4 linked regions of the Homo sapiens genome follow. The protein of the gene in region 3 purifies or fractionates together with the protein of the main gene of each other region. This does not show direct contact. Each region holds a gene or a part of one and is shown on either strand. Other genes may lie near its edges.

Region 1 (4,639 bases), on a different chromosome or scaffold from region 3:
TCTGCCCTGCTTCAGGGTTAGGAAGGAGGCCAGCAAGGGAGCTTGACCTAGGGGACCAGATGCCTGGGTGCTGTATCCCTGACGACTGTCTTTGAAGCCAGGTATCCTTCAAAATATGAGGTAAGCAAAGGATGCATGCAAGTAGAAAGGTCATGCTGCCGATGACAGAGATTACCGGTTGTGAGGAAAAACTCACCTGAAATTTATTAGTAGAGTTAAAAGGGATTTCAGCTACTTTGCGGTTTCTTTTTCTAATTTCCATCACATCACCCAAAATGACCTCTGAGAATTTTAAAAGAGCAGTTTCTGAGGCATCTCCAATCACAGCTTTCTGGGAATCAAAGAAGAAAAATATTTGCAGCACATATTTAATGAACCAACATGCCCTCAGCATAGGACCCAAAACACACCCTCCTGATCCCATTACCACCTAGCTGGAGAGACATTATCACGTGATCAGGGAGGGCCGCAAGACCGTGGTAAGCGTGTAAACAACAGTGCCACCTACTGGCATTAGGGATGTTTGGAGAAGCTGGACCTCTGCGAGGACTGAAGATTTCGTGGAAAAAAGCAGCTACGAACTAGATCTTGATAGATAGGTGGGTTACCGATACACAGAGAAGAAAGCCTTCCAGAAACCAGGATGCGGGTGCAGGGGCATGAGGGGCAGGCTCGTCCGTGAGTGTTCAAGGTACAAGCGGATGTGGAGGGTGTGGCAAGACCTGGAGGGCCCTGAAAGGTAGCCTGAGGTCTAGACTTGAGAAGCAGAAAACAGGGAAGTACGGAGAGATTTTGAGCAAAGTTAAGTGACTATAAAAGCACCATTAAGGGAAATTAGTGGCATTCGAGAAAGACCCCAGGAGGGATAAACCGGAATCAAAGAGGTTTAATTCCAATCAGCCGGTAATCGGCTATTTAGATGCAAGGTACTGCTGACAAATACTAAAGTTATGTATATTTTGAAGCAAGAATGATAGAACTTGGTGGCTTACTGGATATAAGGAAAGGATAAAGTCAAAGATGACTTCCAAATATTCTGTTCCAATGACAAATAGAATGGTTATATCATAGACAATTAGAAAATTGCGGCAAGGCACTGATGTGCAGCCAGGCTGGGTACGGGTGGAAGTTAACAAGCATGATTTGTGCAACTTCCTAGCGGAAGCACACAGCCAGCCAGAGATTCGGGTTGGAGTTGAGGTAAGAAATTAGAGCTGGACATAAAGATTTGGAAGATATCGACAAAGAAGCAATTGGCCAAAAAGAGCATTCATGAGCTGTCTGACGGAGAGAAAAGCAAACAAACAAACAAAAAAATAAGAAAGAAAAAGAGTCAGGGAAGGAAACAGATGGCAAATAGAAAAGCCAGGAGAACAGGGATTCAGTGACTCATTGAGATGGAGAGGAAAAGGGAGGAAGGGAAGGAGGAGAGGGAGGGAGGGGGAGAGTTTATTGTATGTTCCGATATTCCAGGACCCCTTAGAGCTTTGTCTGCAGCCATATTCTAGTTAACAGGAGTCCTTTTATTTTTATTCAATCACACTTTAAATTTCCATGAATGGTGTGTATATTAAAAGGAACTTTGATTATATCCACTTAGCTGGCAGAAAAGTCAGGAAAGTAACTTAGAAGTGCATTCATTTCCAGAATTTTCTGAAGACGCTAAAGCAATATTCTGAAACCTTTTAAGCATCTTTGTATTCTCAAAGCTAGTGTGCATAAAGAAAAATTTCTGGATGTCTTGTGAGTCTGACTTGCTCTTGCAAGCACTGAACAAACTTTAAGCAACTGGAGAGATGAAATCAAGCACCCAATCAGACCTCAGCAAGTGACTACAAACTGGCTGTGATTTAAGACCAAGTGCTGCAGAAGCATTACCTTCATGATGGGGACATTTTCCTGTCCTGGCTTGAACTCTGCTCGGTTACACAATGTTATTATCTTGGATAAGGAGGCCCAAGTCCTAGAGCTTTGGTCAAAGACTTGGTCTGGAAGACAGAGAAAGAACAGTGGCTGCTGTGGGTTGGGCTGGCCGTCCATGAGTCACTGTCCAGCAATCCTCTGGCTGCAGACCCTGCTGTGTGCTCAGCTCAGCCCCAGGATGGAGTCCACAGCTTTGGCCAGACCGAGCTCTCCATAAGACTTACTTGAATGGTCCTCACTGGTGTCAGCCACAAAGATCTGATTGTCGAACCACAGATGGGCCACTGTCATCCTGTTCTGGGTCAGTGTCCCAGTCTTGTCCGAGCAGATGATGGAGGTGGAGCCGAGGGTCTCCACAGCCTCCAGGTTCTTCACCAGGCAGTTCTTCTTGGCCATCCGTTTTGCTGTCAGCGACAGGGTCACCTAGCAGGAGAGGGAAGGACGCTTTGGGAAAAATCCTCATTTGAACTCAGGTCCAATAATACAGAAATAGCCAATGTGAGCTGTGATTGAATTTTAGGAGAGAGCTGGACTAGTTTTAGGGGAGAGGTGTGGTTGTCAGCGCAGCTAAGCTGACCTGGTGGCTTATACGCCGCCAAGAGCCCTCTATGCCACAATCCTTTTTTAAAGATTAAATATGAGATGCTTTTCTTGTTCCTTCATGACTTGAAGAAAACAAGGGACCCACGGGCAGCAAACACGGACACGCTGCTGTGGCTCGTGTTCACGTACAATCACGACGCCTCCTGTGATCCCTAAGCAGGAGTGTGTAAGAGAGACTGACCAGTGCATGCCAAAGAGTTGTCCCAAAGGACACACTTGTTGCTTTGGGGAATTCAGCAGCCTTTATGTTGTTTCATTTTAAAAGCTCCATATTTTAAAGATTCTTTTAAACCCCTAGATCTCAAAGGGTTCTTTTGGCTCCAATTTCCCCAAATTACTATCTCCTGGAGTCAGAGGAGACCTGGACTTCAAAAACTTCTTCTCTTTTCTTTGGTCAGGACAATAGCAGGCCAATGATCATGTAGTCACAAAACTGGAAACATAAACCCCCTCCTCTCCTACCCCTTGAGACCCCCACAGGAGAGACTGAGGAGGAGGGGGCTCTTCTCTAGGGACTGAATGACATGGGCCCATACAAACAGCTGGGTCTGGGGTTGGCCAGGAAAGGGCTGGAGTCCTCGGCAGGAAAAATGGGAGGAATTTTTTTTTTTCGTAAGAGAGGTAAGTGGAGTGTGGCAATGTGCCTAAATGCCTAAGTTGTAGAAACTGCCAAAGAAATGTGCGGAAGGCATCAAGCTTCTAGAAAACCTGTGAATGGTGGAGTCTGTCTTATCTAGATCTTATGGGGCAGAGTAAGCTGTGTGAATTGCAGATTGAAAGCATAACGTTTTCAAGGAAAACGCAGTCAAATATTGAAAATATGACAAATTTTTTGTCTCTGTAAGGAACAGTCTATGCAGAATGTTCCAGGGTTGTCGCTGGCGGGGAGGGCGTGGTGCTCTGGACTTGGGGGAGATTGCAGTTTGTGTGGGCGCCTCCCCAGCACCAGTGCTGTGTCCACAGGGCCAGGTGCAGGCTGTCTAACAGCATGGACTCACAGTGACAGTGGCCAGGAGGCCCTCGGGCACATTGGCCACAATGATGCCAATGAGGAAGATGATGGAGTCCAGGACTTGATACTTCAGGGACACAGCGATGATGAAGAAAAGGATGCCGATGGAGACAGCCACTCCTGCCACAATGTGAACAAAGTGCTCGATCTCAATGGCAATGGGCGTCTTCTCATTTCCAACTCCTGAGGCCAATGAGGCAATATGGCCAATGATGGTGCGGTCACCCGTGTTGATAACCATGCCGGTGACAGTGCCTACAGGGGAAGTAGATGCTTTATTCCAGGGGTCCTCAGCCAGGAGGGGTGTGCAGCCAGCTTGCAGCCCTCTCTGGGGGCTGGCACAATCGATAGGCACACCACATTCCCAAGGCCAAGCATCGTCCTCTAGGCCCTTCAGTTCCATGCTTCCTCTGGGATGAGCTTTGTAACGGGGTGTGGCAAAGGACAGACCTGAGAGCCCAGGAGGGAGAAAGGACACAGGTGGACATGTGGGCTGAGAGCCAGAGGCCTTTTACCTTCCAGACACGTTGTGGAATAGAAGCAGATGTTCTTTGTTTCCAGGGGGTTTTCATGGGTAAACTCAGAGGAGCGGGGCTGGGGCTCAGACTCCCCCGTGAGAGATGAGTTATCCACCTAGAAGAAATGTTGAAGGTGGTTCACAGCTGGGTACCTCATTCCCTGCCTCTTATACTGATGCTGGGAAAGACCCCAGAGCCAGCAGGTTTGGAACATGGTCCTTGGGGTGGATACCCCTTGCCGCTTACCCGACACCCCTGAGAAGACAGCACCCTGATGTCTGCAGGGATCTGGTCTCCTCCTTTGACCTCCACAATGTCCCCCACCACCAGCTGCTCTGAAGGGATGGTCTTCTTCTCGGAATCTCGGATGACGAGAGCTTGCTGCAGAAAAAAACCATGACAGATGCCTCAGACCCTGGAAGGACACCGGCCCTCCCCCAAGTCTGTGCCGCACCGAACCCCAGGACAGAGGCCTTGGAACTTCCTGATCACTCTCACTGTTGAGTCCATGCTGTTATGCAGCCTGCACCTGGCCCTGTGGACACAGCATTGCTGCTGGAGCATGAGGCTGTCAGAACAGCAA
Region 2 (5,185 bases), on a different chromosome or scaffold from region 3:
ATAGATATAGCCTGGACACAAAGTTCTCTGGTTTATGACACTCCCATTGTACAGCTGCCTCCATAGCTCCTTGAAATTCTGGATCAGGGATTGGACATCTGACAGGTAGTTTTGACTGCTTGGTATCACAGAGTTCAATCCAACAAAAGGAAGACATGTTCCCTTGTGTATAATGAATCTGCAGATCACTTATTCAAACTATAGTAGTCTGAACTCAGATGCTGGATGTCAGGTCCCCTCAGGATTGTCTTCCTGCGTCTTGACTGCAGCCACTCCTACACAGGGTGATTTCCTGGGCTGGAGCCAGTTTGCAGGACTATGAGACTATATAGACTACAAAGCCTAGCTAGGCCCCAGGTCGGCGGCAGAGTAAGCCCCACAGCAATGCGTTAAGCCTTCATGAAATGAGTGTTGAATGAATGAGGTAGTGATTCAGTGTATATTTGATCCACTGCAATAGGTGGGAAGGGGGCAGAGGCAGCTACTTCCTAAAATAACCCTTCTTCAGACTCTTAAAGAACTGATCCTTGTTTTGAATTAAAATCTATCTTCATTTAACTTCCAGTCCTTTGCCCTACAGATAATTCGTAGCGCCACATCAGTTCTACCCATTCTTTCACATGAAGACAGATGTCATGTTCTGAGTCATCTTTCTTCGCCTCCTTCCAGCAGCCCTTATCTGGTGGCTCACATTTGAGCGAGCTCCAATATGTCTCTGTAGAATCTCTCTCTTCTTTTTTCTTTTCTTTTTTTTTTTTTTTGAGATGGAGTTTCGCTCTTGTTGCCCAGGCTGGAGTGCAATGGCGCGATCTCGGCTCACCGCAACCTCCCCTCCCGGGTTCAAGCGATTCTCCTGCCTCAGCCTCCCTAGTAGTTGGGATTACAGGCATGCACCACCACGCCCGGCTAATTTTGTATTTTTAGTAGAGACAGGGTTTCTCCATGCTTGTCAGGCTGGTTTTGAACTTGCGACCTCAGGTGATCCGCCCGCCTTGGTCTCCCCAGGTGCTGGGATTACAGGCGTGAGCCGGCCCGGCCTGTAAAATCTCTTCAAAGTGTGGTACATGGAGTGCAGTACTCCACCTGTGGCCTGACTGATATGCAGTACAATATTATCACTAAATTGCTACAGACAGTGTGCTTTTCATTGTTGTCACAGAAATGTATTTGGTTAGTTATATTTGTTCATATCTCATCTGACTTTCCAGTCTTCCCTCACTTTGTACAGTCATATTTGCCGAGTCAAGTAAAAGTTATAACATTTAGGACACAATGCCCGACTTACTATAATTACCATTATTATCTTAGGATCATTACAAAACAGAATTACCACTTAGCTCTCAGGCCCTACCTCCTTCAGCCTCAGAAACGTTAACGCTACCTTGCATTGCTGCTTTTAGCACCGCCCCTAATAAGCCCCGCCCCTGGGGCCTCCGCGGCGGGAGCCTAGCGTCCGCCCCACCCACCCCGAGCCCGAGGCGGGGCTGTGGATGTAGACGCTGATTGGCTGACTGGGGCGCAGCTTGATGGCGTCGGGCTGGAGAGCCGCAGTCCCGGCTGCAGCACCTGGGAGAAGGCAGACCGTGTGAGGGGGCCTGTGGCCCCAGCGTGCTGTGGCCTCGGGGAGTGGGAAGTGGAGGCAGGAGCCTTCCTTACACTTCGCCATGAGTTTCCTCATCGACTCCAGCATCATGATTACCTCCCAGGTGAGTCACCGCCTCCCGCCCCGACACCCGTCCGCCTCCCTTTACCGAATCGCCCTCTCCGGTCCTCCGCGGTGCGGGCTGGTCCGGGGTCTCGCTCCTCTCTTACGCGTCCTGCGCTAGTCACTCTGGCACCCAGAGAGGGTGTGCGATTTGCTGCGGCCGGTTCCCTCAGCCCCGGCTGTCAGGAGACTGGCCTGCGGCCGTCCGCGTCCCCACCCGGCATCCATCCCCGGAATTTCGGTCCACTTTTGGAAGCGGTCCGCCGACCTCCAGGCTAAGAGCCGGCGCCGCCAGCTAAGGCGGCGGTTCTAGGAGCTCCTCGAAGCTTCCGGGCTGCGCCAACTGATCCTGGACTGGGGAAGCCTGTGTGGTTCTGGGCGCGCGGTGTGCGACGCGCCAATACTGGATACTGAGGACACGTCAGTGCAGGCTTTGCTGTTAGATGTCAAATCCTGAATCCGGGTGTGGAGAAATTTGCTGCTTCAAAGTATCAGTATAAGGTAATACCTGTGCTTGAAAGTATAAGGTTTCGTTTTTGCACTGACACCTCGTCCTTTATCCTCTGCTTAGTTACCCACCTTTTCCGGATGTTTTTCTGACCCTCATTTCTTCTCCATTGGCCACCTTCATTTGTTTGTACAGTCAACAAACATTTATCGACCATTATATAAAGCTCTGAGCGTAAAAACATGTAAGACACTGTCTCTGCTCAATAGAAGTTTCGTCTAGTTAGCCTCTTGCTTTTACCATGTAATCTATTGTTAATTATTGTTTCTTCCTAGCATTCATCATAGCACTGGCATCATTTATGTCTGTGTTTCTGATTTTGTTTTTTGAGATCCTGCCTTGTTCATAGCTGTATCCCCACTTCCAAGTGCAGGCATTCAATAAATAATTGTTGGCCAATATTTGTGAAGCTCAGACTGCCTGTTGACCTTCTTCCCCCCATCTTTCCAATAAAGATTTTGTGTGTGTGTGGTTGTTTTTACTTGTTCTTTCTCTCAAACGGCAAATAACAGAAGCAGTTACCTTTGGGGGCTTAAAGTGAACTAAATTTGTGTTCTTTGATTCCGTTTTTGTATTGCTTCATCCTAATACTCGTCTCCGTAGAGCGGAGCATTGTCCTTTTCTCTTCAAAAACTTGTTTACAATATTTAAGAAAATAAGAAAGAAGGAAAAGCCATCCATAATCCTACCACTCTAATGCAATAGTTTTTTCATTTTTAAAATTTACCACCTTTTCTATAGTTTTCATAAGTATTGTTTTTATTGGCTGCATAATATTCAAATGTATTAATGTAAAAAAACCTAGACATGTAACTCTTCTGCTTAAAACCTTTCTAAGACTACCCAGTGCCCTTGGTGACAACTCAGGGTTATTTTTAGCCTTAGTACCAATTTAAGAAAAATAACAATATTTAATTAGCTTTTCTTTTCATTTAGAATAAAGATAAGAATGTCAGTAGAAAATTGGCTTTGCATTGCAGCCTCTACGATTTTTAGCATGGATATAATTGATACGTTGAACCGAGGAAGTGGCTTTCTAATTTTGTATGCCTTATAATCATAGACTTTCACTTCACACATGCATCCACATGCAGTAATTAATTGTTAAACCTGGTTTTTACAAATGTGGAAGAAAGACCCAAAGATTCCTTTGCATGGAATGTTCTCTGTTCAGATATTTATGTGGCTACTTTATCATCCTTTCGGTATTAATAAAAATGTCGCTTTAGGAAGGTCTTACCTGACACCCTGCCCACAACCAAAGTAGCTTTCCATTTCGGCTGCCTTCTTCCTCATTTCCATGTTTTATTTTCTTCTTGGCATTTATTACTATGGTTCATTTGTATATTCATGTGTTTGTTATCTGTCCATGAGGTCCAAGATACTGTCTGTCTTGTTCTCTCCTGTATTCACCAGCATCTAGATCAGTTGCGGGCACATAGTAGAGTTGTAGTGAATATTTGTTTAATAAAAAGCACCTCTCTAGAGAGGTGTGGTTACCTTGGAAACACCACCATTGCCCCCTGCGCCCCTCCCTGCTCATTTTTTCTGTTTTGTATTAACTGAAAGGTTTATTTGAAATGAAATCTGAAATCAGAGGTCACGTATTCAATCTTGCTCACCACGGCACAGGATGAAGTTCAAACTCCTTTACATGGCTTTTCAGGTCCCTTATTGATGGGACCCTGGCTCTTCTCTCTTCAGCTGTGGCTCCAATTTATTCTTTAGACTTCCTGAACTTCTTTTAGTTCCCTAACCTGGCGATGCTATGGTGCCTCCAGATTTCCACACAGTGTGTTTTCTCTTTCTGGGCCTTTTCCTCATATCCCTCCCCTTCTTTAAGCCTTCAGATCTCAAGTTGAACATCCAAGAAGCTTCCCCTAGACTGGACTAGATGTCCCTATACCTACTGCCATAGTACCCTTCACCTACTTCCCCTGTAACAACACTACCACATTGTTTGGTAATTACTTGTTTATCTCCTCCATAGATTATAAACTCCTTGAGAGTAGCATTCATGCTCTCATTTGCCATTCTATCCCTTGGACCTGGCACATATTAGGCACTAATAAATATTTGTTAAATGATTAAAAGGGTGAATAAATGATCCAAGAAAGGTGTCTTTTATAGTTAATTCTTTAATAACTGTCCTGCTGATGGCCATCTTTTTTTTTTAACAGTAGCTAATTTTCAACCCAGAAGTCACTTTTTTAAAAGCAACTGTTAACTAACTCATGTTTTGAGCCCTCTATACCGTCATAAGACTTATCAGTTCCAGAGTACACTCTTAAGTCCTAAGGTCAAGACTCTGTACAATTCTGAAAGTATCAAGTCTCATTTTTAATAAGAAGCTATACGCCTTCCATTTTATTTGCAAAGCTATTTGAAATTGCATTTTGCTTCTGCTTTCTTTTTGGATCCTCTATAATCTTGCCAGAATTTGTGTTTACTTGGATGTAAATGAATTCTCCAGCTACTTGTGTGTGTGTGTGTGTGTGTAGTTTAAGTCTTTTTTTTTTTTTCAACTTTTATTTTATTTTAGATTTGGTACTTGTGCCGGGTATATTGTGGGAGCTCAGGTTTGGGGTACAAATGATCCGGTCACCCAGGTACTGAGCATAGTACTCAATAATTAGTTTTTCAACCCTTCCCCCTTCTCCCCTCCCCTGCCCCCAAGTAGTCTCCAGTTTCTGTTTTTGCCATCTTTATGTTGGTGAGTACCCAATATTTAGCTCCCACTTAGAAGTGAGAACATGTGGTATTTGGTTTTCTGTTCTTGCATTAATTTGCTTAGGATGATGGCCTCTAGCTGCATCTATGTTGCTGCAAAGGACATAATTTTGTTCTGAAAGTCTTTTTAAGCTTTTCTTTTTCAATGTGAAAGGAGGCCACAATGAAATATTAAAGGTATATATCTGTTTCTCTTTTCTTCCATTCCCCTCCCCACCATATAAACTTAAAATTTTTGCTTG
Region 3 (4,639 bases):
TCAACTGCTTGGAGGCCGGGGCCAGGGCTGCCGCCGCCAGAAGGTGACAAATGAGTCTGTGCCTCAGCCCAGGGCTGCCGGCCAGCGGTGCCTGGACACACCGCTCCTTCTCACCTGAAGCCTGAGTTCCTGGGACCTGGCATCTTACTCAGAGACCAGGCACCATCGCCCCTGTCCCACATTCCCCTTCTCAAGGCCCCACCCTGAAGCCAGCTCTGGGCCTGGCTCCAGACCTCAGCCTGCACAGCCACAAGCAAAGCACACGGAATGCGCACCCCATCCTGGCCACGGCCACTCGGGCAGGTGCTGGAGACCAGGCCCCTGATCCGGCGTCCCTTCTGCCGAGCCCGAGAGGCCACAGCTGAAGATCTTGAGGCTGAGGCCTGAGCCCCCTCCCATGTGGTGTCCTGGCAGAGCCCCTGGGCCTTGGCCTGGGTGAGGATGGGAGGGAGGAGGGGAGGCTGGGGTCTGGGCCATTCCAGGCCAGCCCATTTTTGTCCTTTTTGGGCTTGTGGTCCCCTCTGGGGGCTGCAGCTGCCTGCGGCGAGGGTGGTGGGAGGGACTCCCCACGGCGATGGGCCCCCAGCTTGCCAGGCCTGAAGGGGCGAGTCAGGGAGCTTTCTTGGAGCTGCCTGGGGGAGGGGGGCATGGGTCTGCATGGCAGGGTCTGCACGTGAGGCCCAAAGCCACGGAGCCTGCGGGACTGGGGCTGGACTCCCCGAGCTAGACAGAGGGGGTGCAGGCCTCAGAGATGTGGACATGGGAACAGCAGCCGGGCCGCCGGAGGCCCGGCCCCACCCAGCACCTTTCATTTCCTTCTCTGGAACCATCCATTAGTCTGAGAACAAAGAAAACTGCCTTTTGCCGCACACTAATTTCTCCTTGTTAGAGGCCCTTTTCCTATCTGGGAGAGGAGCGCTCTCTTGTTCTGGCTTTCAAAGAGGAGATGGGGGAGGGGTGGGGAGGAGTTGGGGACAGGCCCGGGAGACACTAATGAGAAACATGGGTTAGGGGGTGGGAGGGGGGGGTCCCAGGCCTCAGACTCCAGTGCAGGCTGGCCTCTGCCTGACCCCCATCAAGGCTCCCGGGTGGGGGCTGCTCTGTCTGTCGGGGGCAAGGACCCATGGCCAGGCTCCTCCTGGACACGTTCCGGGGCGCACAGCCTAGTACAGCGTCTCGCGGGTGGCATTGCTGGAGAGGGTGTGGTTGCTGGACACGCTGTCGGCCTTCCTCGAGAAGGCTGGCCTCTTCCTCCTGCGCCGCCACACCGGGCAGAGGCAGGCCAGTGTGGCCAGGAAGATGTGGCGGAAGTTGGCAGAGACGAGGTTGTACAGGATGGGGTTGATGGTGGAGCTGACGTAGAAGAGTGCGTTGGTCACCATGTAGAAGTAGTGGTAGAAGTCATAGAGGAACCTGCGGGGAGAGAGAGGCGCTCAGATCCCAGAGAGAACTCTTGAGGGCCCCAAGGCAGGGTGACAGCCGGGGCCACAGCGGCTGAGGGACGTGGTGGCTCAGACGCTAATTAAAACACCCCTTGAGAATGGTTGTTTGGGGACATTTCATAACAAGCTCCAGGGTCTGGCTTCTCCTGAGCAGCTGCAAGTTCTCGTCGTGCTCCCGCCCAGCCTGGGCTGCTGCTGCTTTTTTTTTTTTTTTGAGACGGAGTCTCGCTCTGTCTCCCAGGCTGGAGTACAGTGGCGCGATCTCGGCTCACTGCAAGCTCCACCTCCCGGGTTCACACCATTCTCCTGCCTCAGCCTCCCGAGTAGCTGGGACTACAGGGACCCCCCCACCACGCCCGGCTAATTTTTTGTATTTTTGGTAGAGACGGGGTTTCACCGTGTTAGCCAGGATGGTCTCGATCTCCTGACCTCGTGATCCACCCACCTCAGCCTCCCAAAGTGCTGGGATTACAGGCGTGAGCCACCGTGTCCCACCCAGCCTGGGCTTCTTTAGGTGGAGCGTGGGCTCTGCTTGTCCATCCCTGCCTCTCCTTGCAGCTGCCTGCATTGCCCTTCGCAGCTCTGTGCATCCAAGGGTCCAGGGCTTGGCTGGTCCCGGCCTAACCAAACAGCCAGGGCAGTAACCCCCTCCACACCTCCCCAGCAGCCACACACCTTGCCCTCAGCTTGTTGCCTCCCCCCACAGTGATCTCACTCCCTCACCAGGCAGCTCAATTACTACCAGTCAGCCCTGAGTTTCAGAAGCTTTTGCAGGGGCCACACTCTGTTCCCCGTGCCTTCTCCTCCTCATTGGTCGTAGGTGCGCCCTCCCTGGTGGTTGTCACTGGAAGGAACCTTTTATTCTGGGATCTGGCAGCCCCACTGCACAGAAAAGGGTTCACAAGTGGGCCCCAAGCTGCCATCTCAGGATGGCCAGCTGGCAAGGCTGGCCTCTGGCTGGTGCCTGGGGCCTTGGATTTTGGGAAGGCTCTGCCATTTTTGGGTGAGAAGGGCTCCCTGCCCCTGAACTGTTGGTGCAAACAGTAGGGGTTTTGCCAGGCAGTGGGTGCCCCTGTGATCGGCCCCCATATCGTCCTGTGAGGCTCCTCTGGGAGGGGGCCCTGGAAGCTGCATCTGGTCTTCCGCTGACCCCACTCCATGTGTCTTTTCCCTTTGCTGACTTTGCTGTATAAGCAAAGCTTTGTCAGTATTGGTGCTCTTGCTGCGATAAGTCACAGCCCTGAGTATAACTCCAGGCTGAGCCCTGTGGGTCCAACCTGGGTGGCCTTGGGGCTCTGACAGCTGCCATATGAGGAGGTGACACCCCCACCATGTCCCCAGCAGAGCCAGGGATGTCTCTCTTTCACCTTCGGGAAACTGCCTGGGCCATCTCTCTTAGGACCAACTTTCTTTCTCTGCACCAGTCTGGCCTGAATAGCCCCTGCCTTGAACCTGTCCCTCCATGGCCTTCTCCCGGCCCCAGTCACAGCACAACCCTGCCCAGGGGGTCGCCGGGGGACTCACCACACCCCTGCCCTGAGTGGATCCCCTCAGCAGTGCCTGCCACACCCACCATCTGTTTTGGGAGCACTTACTTGTCCAGCACCCAACTTCCTGGTTCCCGGTACTCACGGAGTCCACTGCTCATCCGAGATGTAGCAGAACATGAGGCGCCGCACGTGGTAGGGCAGCCAGCAGACCACAAAGGCGATGACCACTGCACCTGAGGCACAGAGACGTGGGCTCAGAGACCCACTGCACCTGAGGCACAGAGGCGTGGGCTCAGAGACCCACTGCACCTGAGGCACACAGATGTGGGCTCAGAGACCCACTGCACCTGAGGCACAGAGACGTGGGCTCAGAGACCCACTGCACCTGAGGCACAGAGACATGGGCTCAGAGACCCACTGCACCTGAGGCACAGAGACGTGGGCTCAGAGACAGGACATGGGCTCAGAGACCCACTGCACCTGAGGCACAGAGACGTGGGCTCAGAGACCCACTGCACCTGAGGCACAGAGGCGTGGGCTCAGAGACCCACTGCACCTGAGGCACAGAGGCGTGGGCTCAGTGGGGGAGACATGGGCTCAGAGACCAGACACAAGCTCAGAGAGGGAGAGACGTGGGCTTGGGGAGGGAGCATAAGCTCAGAGACAGGACACAGGCTCAGAGACAGGACACAGGCTCAGAGAGGGAGAGACATGGGCTGAGGGAGGTAGACACTGGCTCAGAGACATGGGCTTAGAGACACAGAGATATGGCCTCAGAGAAGGAGACACGTGGTCTGAGGGAGATGCAGGGAGACATCCCATGTTCATGGATTGGAAGATTTAATATTGTTAAGGTGTCAGTACTACCCAAAGCACTCTACAGATTCAATGCAATCCGTATCAAATTTCAAGAATGCTTTTGGCAGAAATAGAAAAATCTGTGCTAAAATTCATATGAAATCTCAAAGGATCCCGGACAGCCAAAACAATCTTGTAAGAAAATAAAGTTGGAGGTCTTACACTTCTTGATTTCAAAACTTACTACAAAGTTACAGTGTGGTGCTGGCATAAAGATAGACACGTAGACCAAGGGAATAGACTAGAAATCTCAGAAACGAACCCTTACCTTTATGGTCAAGTGATCTTCACCAAGACCATTCAGTGGGGAAAGGACAGTCTATTCAACAAAGGGTGTTAGGAAAACGGGACATCCACTTGTATGAAGGTGGATCCTCCCCTCACACCATATACAAAAATGGACTTGAAGTGGATTAAAGACCTGAACATAAGAACTAAAACCATAAAACTCCTAGGAGAAAACATAATTACTTTACAACATTGATTTTGGCAATGATTTCTTGGGTATGACACCAAAAGCACAGGCCACAAAAGAAAAAAGTAGATAAATTGAACAACATAAACACTGAATTTCTGTGTATCAAAGGATGCCATCAGGAGAGTGGAAGTCAGCTCACAAAAAAGGAGAAAATATTTGCAAATCACATCTGATAATGAGTTAACCTTGAGAGTATAACTCCTAAAACTCAACATGAAAACAAACAATCCAATTCACAAATGGGCAAAGGACTCAGACATTTCTCCAAAGAAGATACAAATGGTCAACAAGCACATGAAAGATGTTATTAATCATTAATCTTAAATCACTGGAGAAATGCAAATCAAAACCACAACGAGATGCCACCTCAA
Region 4 (4,639 bases), on a different chromosome or scaffold from region 3:
AGAAACTAAACAGGTTTGTTCTATCTGTTGAATTCTCTCTGATGCTATAAAAGTGCTAGACACATTTGTACAGATAAATATTTGACGTAAAACACAGTGGAACAAAAATAATATTCAAAATGAAGAAATACAAACACACATTCAAAATATGCATTTTTATTTACCTTAGTGGTCCACAAAGAGTGAGGCCAAAAAACCACAAGAGTGAAATAATACACCCAGCAACTGCATGTTTAAATATTTTGATCCACTATAAATGGAAACAAAAAAATTAAAAATTTCAGTCACATATATTTTGCTATATATCCAAATTTTAAATAAAATACAGAAAGATAATAATAACAAATATTTTAAAGGTGAAATCATTACATATTTTGTAAATAGAAAACATAAGATCCCTTGACTAAGTCTAGATTTCCAAGACAGTATTCTTATTCTGGGCCGGGTGCTGTGGCTCATGCCTGTAATCCTAGCACTTTGTGAGGCCGAGGCAGGCAGATCACCTGAGGTCAGGAGTTCAAGACCAGGCTGGCCAATGTGGTGAATGAAGCCCCGTCTCTACTAAAAATACAAAAATGAGCTGGGTGTGGTGGTGGGTGCCTGTAATTCCAGCTACTCAGGAGGCTGAGGCAGGAGAATCGCTTGAACCCGGGAGGCAGAGGTTGCAGTGAGACAAGATCGTGTCACTGCACTGCAGCCTGGGCGATGGAGCAAGACTCTTTCTCAAAAAAAGAAAGAAAAAAAAAAAGGACAGTATTCTGTTTTCCATTATCTATATTCTTGTCTGCTGGTAGATTTTGAAATCTTTTTCTTCAGAGTACAATTTTATGATTTCTCAGTTTCCCACTAGTTTCCTAGGATCATTTAACTTTTTGTCTTTAAATTCTTTTCTACCAGGAATTTTTAGTGATCCAATTATCTGAAAGGAGAGAAAAAAGTTAAAATGGGGTTTAGACTATTAATCATATTTTAAAAAATGTTCTTGGTCTCTGAAACAGAAGTACTTAAATTCGTCTTTCTAATAAAAAAATTATGACGCAGGTTTGTAAGTCATGGCATAAAGCAAACATGTACTATGGTATAACTGCTGCCCAAAGAAGTGACGATGTGAGATGATTATGCAAAATGTAGGACATTTCTAGTTTGAATCACAGCTGCCTAAAGAGAACAGTGACAATGATCATGAGGGTGTCACATTGTCACAATGATGATGAGGCATCATTCTAAGAACTTCATAAGTATTAATTCATTTTTCCTCACAGTTCTGTTAGGAAGTTACTGTTATCTCCATTTTACAGTGAGCAAATTAAGGTAGAGAGAAATCAAGTAACTTGCCCAAAGTAAGGGTCAGTAAGGAGGACAGACAGAACATGACTTTGTCTGACTCCAGAAATCACACTCTTAACCCCTATGCTTTGTCAGCTTTCCAGTGACATTTGTACTAGGCTCTTGGGCATGCTTTCATGTCCAATTTGTAAATCTTTCAGAATAAGAAGTGTGTACTGAAGAAAACAATTACATGAATGCTTTATAATTTTTTTTACCCTCTTGTTTTTTTTAAAAACATTCCATGATCTTAGTACTTTATGATTTAAAGTCTCCATTCTGAAAAGACAAGAGCAAGTTAACTCTAAAATTGTTCTGTGGCATACTTAAATCATTCATTAAGTACCCATTATAAAAAATAAGCATTGCCTCCTGGCCCACTAAACGAGAAGCTGCTAGGAATAAAAGATTCTGCAAAAATCTTACCTGGTGTTTGGTAATAGTTTTCCCAGAAGAAAATGGCTTTTGAAACAAAACCATAAAAAATGCAGTCCTGTAAATATTGAAACATTAATATATTAATATTAATCCATATTAAACACAAGATACAGTTTTAAGTAAAGACACTTATTTTAAACAAATATGCCAGAACTTGAAGTGTTATCCTCTGAATAAATCATACTGGAGAATTAATTATACTTATTTTAGTAAAACTCCTATTGCAATATTTTGATAACTTTTTTTTTTTTTTTTTTGAGATGGAGTCTTGCTCTGTCACCAGGCTGGAGTGCAGTGGCACGATCTTGGCTCACTGCAACCTCTGCCTCCCGGGTTCAAGCAATTCTCCTGCCTCAGCCTCCTGAGTAGCAGGGATTACAGGTGTGCGCCACCACGCCCAGCCAATTTTTCGTATTTTTAGTAGAGATGGTGTTTCAACACGTTGGCCAGGCTGGTCTCGAACTCCTGACTTCAGGTGATCCGCCTGCCTCGGCCTCCCAAACTGCTGGGAAAACAGGCATGAGCTATCACACCTGGCCGAGAACTCTTATTTTCTAACTGTCTTCAGAACCAGCTAACAAGCCACAAAAATAAAGGAGTCACAATTTTTTTTATATCTTAAAATATCAAAGAAGAGAATTCCTATTTTCTCTAAAATTCAGTAATAAATCTTGAAATAGTATAATGAAAATGAAGAAATTACTAATTATATATCCCTACCTTTCACATTGCCAAAATAGTTATATAAAAATGCACACAACTTGGCCAGGCACAGTGGCTCAAGCTTGTAATCCCAGCACTTTGGGTGGCCGAGGTGGGCGGATCACCTGAGGTCAGGAGTTGGAGACCAGCCTGGCCAACATGGCAAAACCCCGTGTCTACTAAAAAAAATACAAAAATTAGCTGGCCATGGTGGGACACACCTGTAATCCTAGCTACTCAGGAGGCTGAGACAGAATTGCTTGAACCCTGGAGGCAGAGGCTGCAGTGAGTTGAGATTGAGCCACTGCACTCCAGCCTGCGCAACCTAGCCAGACTGTCTCAAAAAAAAAAAAAAAAAAAAAAAGCACGTCACTGGTGCTTAATATTTCCTAGTCAATAATCTCTTTCCCAACTTACCAAAATTATACTTCGAAGAGTGTTGTTTTTGTTTTTTTTTTTAAATGGAGTCTCGCTCTGTTGCCCAGGCTGGAGTGCAGTGGCATGATCTCAGCTCACTGCAACCGCTGCCTCCCAGGTTCAAGCAATCCTCCTGCCTCAGCACCCCTTGTAGCTGGGATTACAGGCACATGCCACCACGCTTGGCTAATTTTTGTATCTTTAGTAGAGACAGGCTTTCGACATGTTGGCCAGGCTGGTCTCCAACTCCTGACCTCAGGCGATCCACCTGCCTCCGCCTCCCAAAGTGCTGGGATTACAGGCATGAGCCACCGTGCCCAGCTGACTCCCAAGAGTCTTTAACAGGTTTTTATTAACACAGAGGGTGGTCACTATCAATCTCAAGGTCCAAGAAATCTTTATTTAGAATTTCTTATATGTAGGCCAGGCGTGGTGGCTCATGCCTGTAATCCCAGCACTTTGGGAGGCTGAGGCGGGCAGATCACAAGGTCAAGAGATTGAGACCATCCTGGCCAACATGGTGAAACCCTGTCTCTATTAAAAATACAAAAATTAGCTGGGCATGGTGGTGAGCGCCTGTAGTCCCAGCTACTCGGGAGGCTGAGGCAGGAGAATCGCTTGAACATAGGAGGCAGTGATCTTGCAGTGAGCCAAGATCACGCCACTGCACTCCAGCCTGGTGACAGAGTGAGACTGTGTCTCAAAAAAGAAAAAAAAAAAGCATTTCGTATAAGTAGAATAAATTAATGTTCACACTACATGAGGACTCTGTACTAAGAAAGGATTATGCAGTGAATAATAATAATAATAAATAGCCCAAAAACTAAATTTGCAAAAATCTCATCAAAGTTTGTGTTTAGGCAAGTGATTAGAGCACAACAATCCGTTTTCTTTTCAGTCTCTTTGTACCTCTAATCTTAAGTATACTCCCAGTTAAAAAAGTTTATCAAATACTTGTCAGGAGGAACAAACAAAATATTGTATGTAAAGTTTCTTAAAGATACTCTGTTAAAACAGGATTTTCAAAGAAATAAAAAATATCAAGAAAAAACCCCCCCCCACACTCACCCAAGTTTTAATATAAAAATGAACTGAACAATGTGAACAGCTTTTAGGAGATCATATGATTCGAAAAGTCCCACAGCCTTCAAAAATTTAGTGAAACATAGTAACACAATATATTTTGTTAATCTGAAAAATAAAAGCAGAAACAATTTTTAGTATCACTGAAATTACAAGCAGCTCATCAATCTGGTTTTTTAAACAAGAGGTCATTACAGAAACCACAGAAATATACATAAACACAAAATGAAACAAAACAGAGTCCCCAAACAACTCACCATCCACGTGATAACTACTGTTGACTTTTTTTTTTTTTTTTTTTTAACTCATAGAGACGGGGTCTCAATGTGTTGCCCAGGCTGGTCTCGAACTCCTTTGGTCAAGCGATCCTCCAGCCTTGGTCTCCCAAAGTGCTAGGATTACAGGTGTGAGCCACCGCGCCCTACTGTTAACATTTTGAGGCCAGGTGCAGTAGCTTGAGACCAGCCTCCGCAACGTGGCAAAAGCCTATCTCTACAAAAAATACAAAGAATTAGCCAGGCATTATGGTGCGTGGTAGCAGTCTCAGCCACTCGGGAGGCTAAGGTGGGAGGTTGAGGTTGCAGTGAGCTGTGTTCGTGTCACTGCACTCCAGCCTGGGCGACAGAGTGAGACCCTGTCTCAAAATACAAACAGGCTGGGCGCTCATGCCTGT

What was found.
Region 1: the proteins of NTSR1 (region 3) and ATP12A purify together in Homo sapiens (affinity purification with mass spectrometry; one large-scale study listed by BioGRID and IntAct). This does not show direct contact.
Region 2: the proteins of NTSR1 (region 3) and GPR89A purify together in Homo sapiens (affinity purification with mass spectrometry, with the first as the bait; one large-scale study listed by BioGRID). This does not show direct contact.
Region 4: the proteins of NTSR1 (region 3) and SLC30A5 purify together in Homo sapiens (affinity purification with mass spectrometry; one large-scale study listed by BioGRID and IntAct). This does not show direct contact.

What each region holds. Positions count from the first base shown.
Region 1 is NC_000013.11:24,690,136-24,694,774, reverse strand, and holds part of ATP12A (potassium-transporting ATPase alpha chain 2), read right to left. Parts: intron 4,438-4,639; coding exon 4,303-4,437; intron 4,172-4,302; coding exon 4,054-4,171; intron 3,812-4,053; coding exon of another isoform or gene 3,794-3,811; coding exon 3,525-3,793; intron 2,347-3,524; coding exon 2,148-2,346; intron 1,989-2,147; coding exon 1,879-1,988; intron 332-1,878; coding exon 197-331; intron 1-196. UniProt on the Homo sapiens protein: The catalytic subunit of a H(+)/K(+) ATPase and/or Na(+)/K(+) ATPase pump which transports K(+) ions in exchange for Na(+) and/or H(+) ions across the apical membrane of epithelial cells.
Region 2 is NC_000001.11:145,606,470-145,611,654, forward strand, and holds the start of GPR89A (Golgi pH regulator A), read left to right. Parts: upstream 1-1,518; 5' UTR 1,519-1,664; coding exon 1,665-1,706; intron 1,707-2,148; exon of another isoform or gene 2,149-2,206; intron 2,207-5,185. UniProt on the Homo sapiens protein: Voltage-gated channel that enables the transfer of anions such as iodide, chloride, bromide and fluoride which may function in counter-ion conductance and participates in Golgi acidification.
Region 3 is NC_000020.11:62,756,792-62,761,430, reverse strand, and holds part of NTSR1 (neurotensin receptor type 1), read right to left. Parts: intron 3,166-4,639; coding exon 3,075-3,165; intron 1,414-3,074; coding exon 1,164-1,413; 3' UTR 1-1,163. UniProt on the Homo sapiens protein: G-protein coupled receptor for the tridecapeptide neurotensin (NTS). Signaling is effected via G proteins that activate a phosphatidylinositol-calcium second messenger system.
Region 4 is NC_000005.10:69,100,242-69,104,880, reverse strand, and holds part of SLC30A5 (proton-coupled zinc antiporter SLC30A5), read right to left. Parts: intron 4,075-4,639; coding exon 3,952-4,074; intron 1,820-3,951; coding exon 1,753-1,819; intron 920-1,752; coding exon of another isoform or gene 836-919; exon of another isoform or gene 251-835; coding exon 165-250; exon of another isoform or gene 141-164; intron 1-140. UniProt on the Homo sapiens protein: Together with SLC30A6 forms a functional proton-coupled zinc ion antiporter mediating zinc entry into the lumen of organelles along the secretory pathway.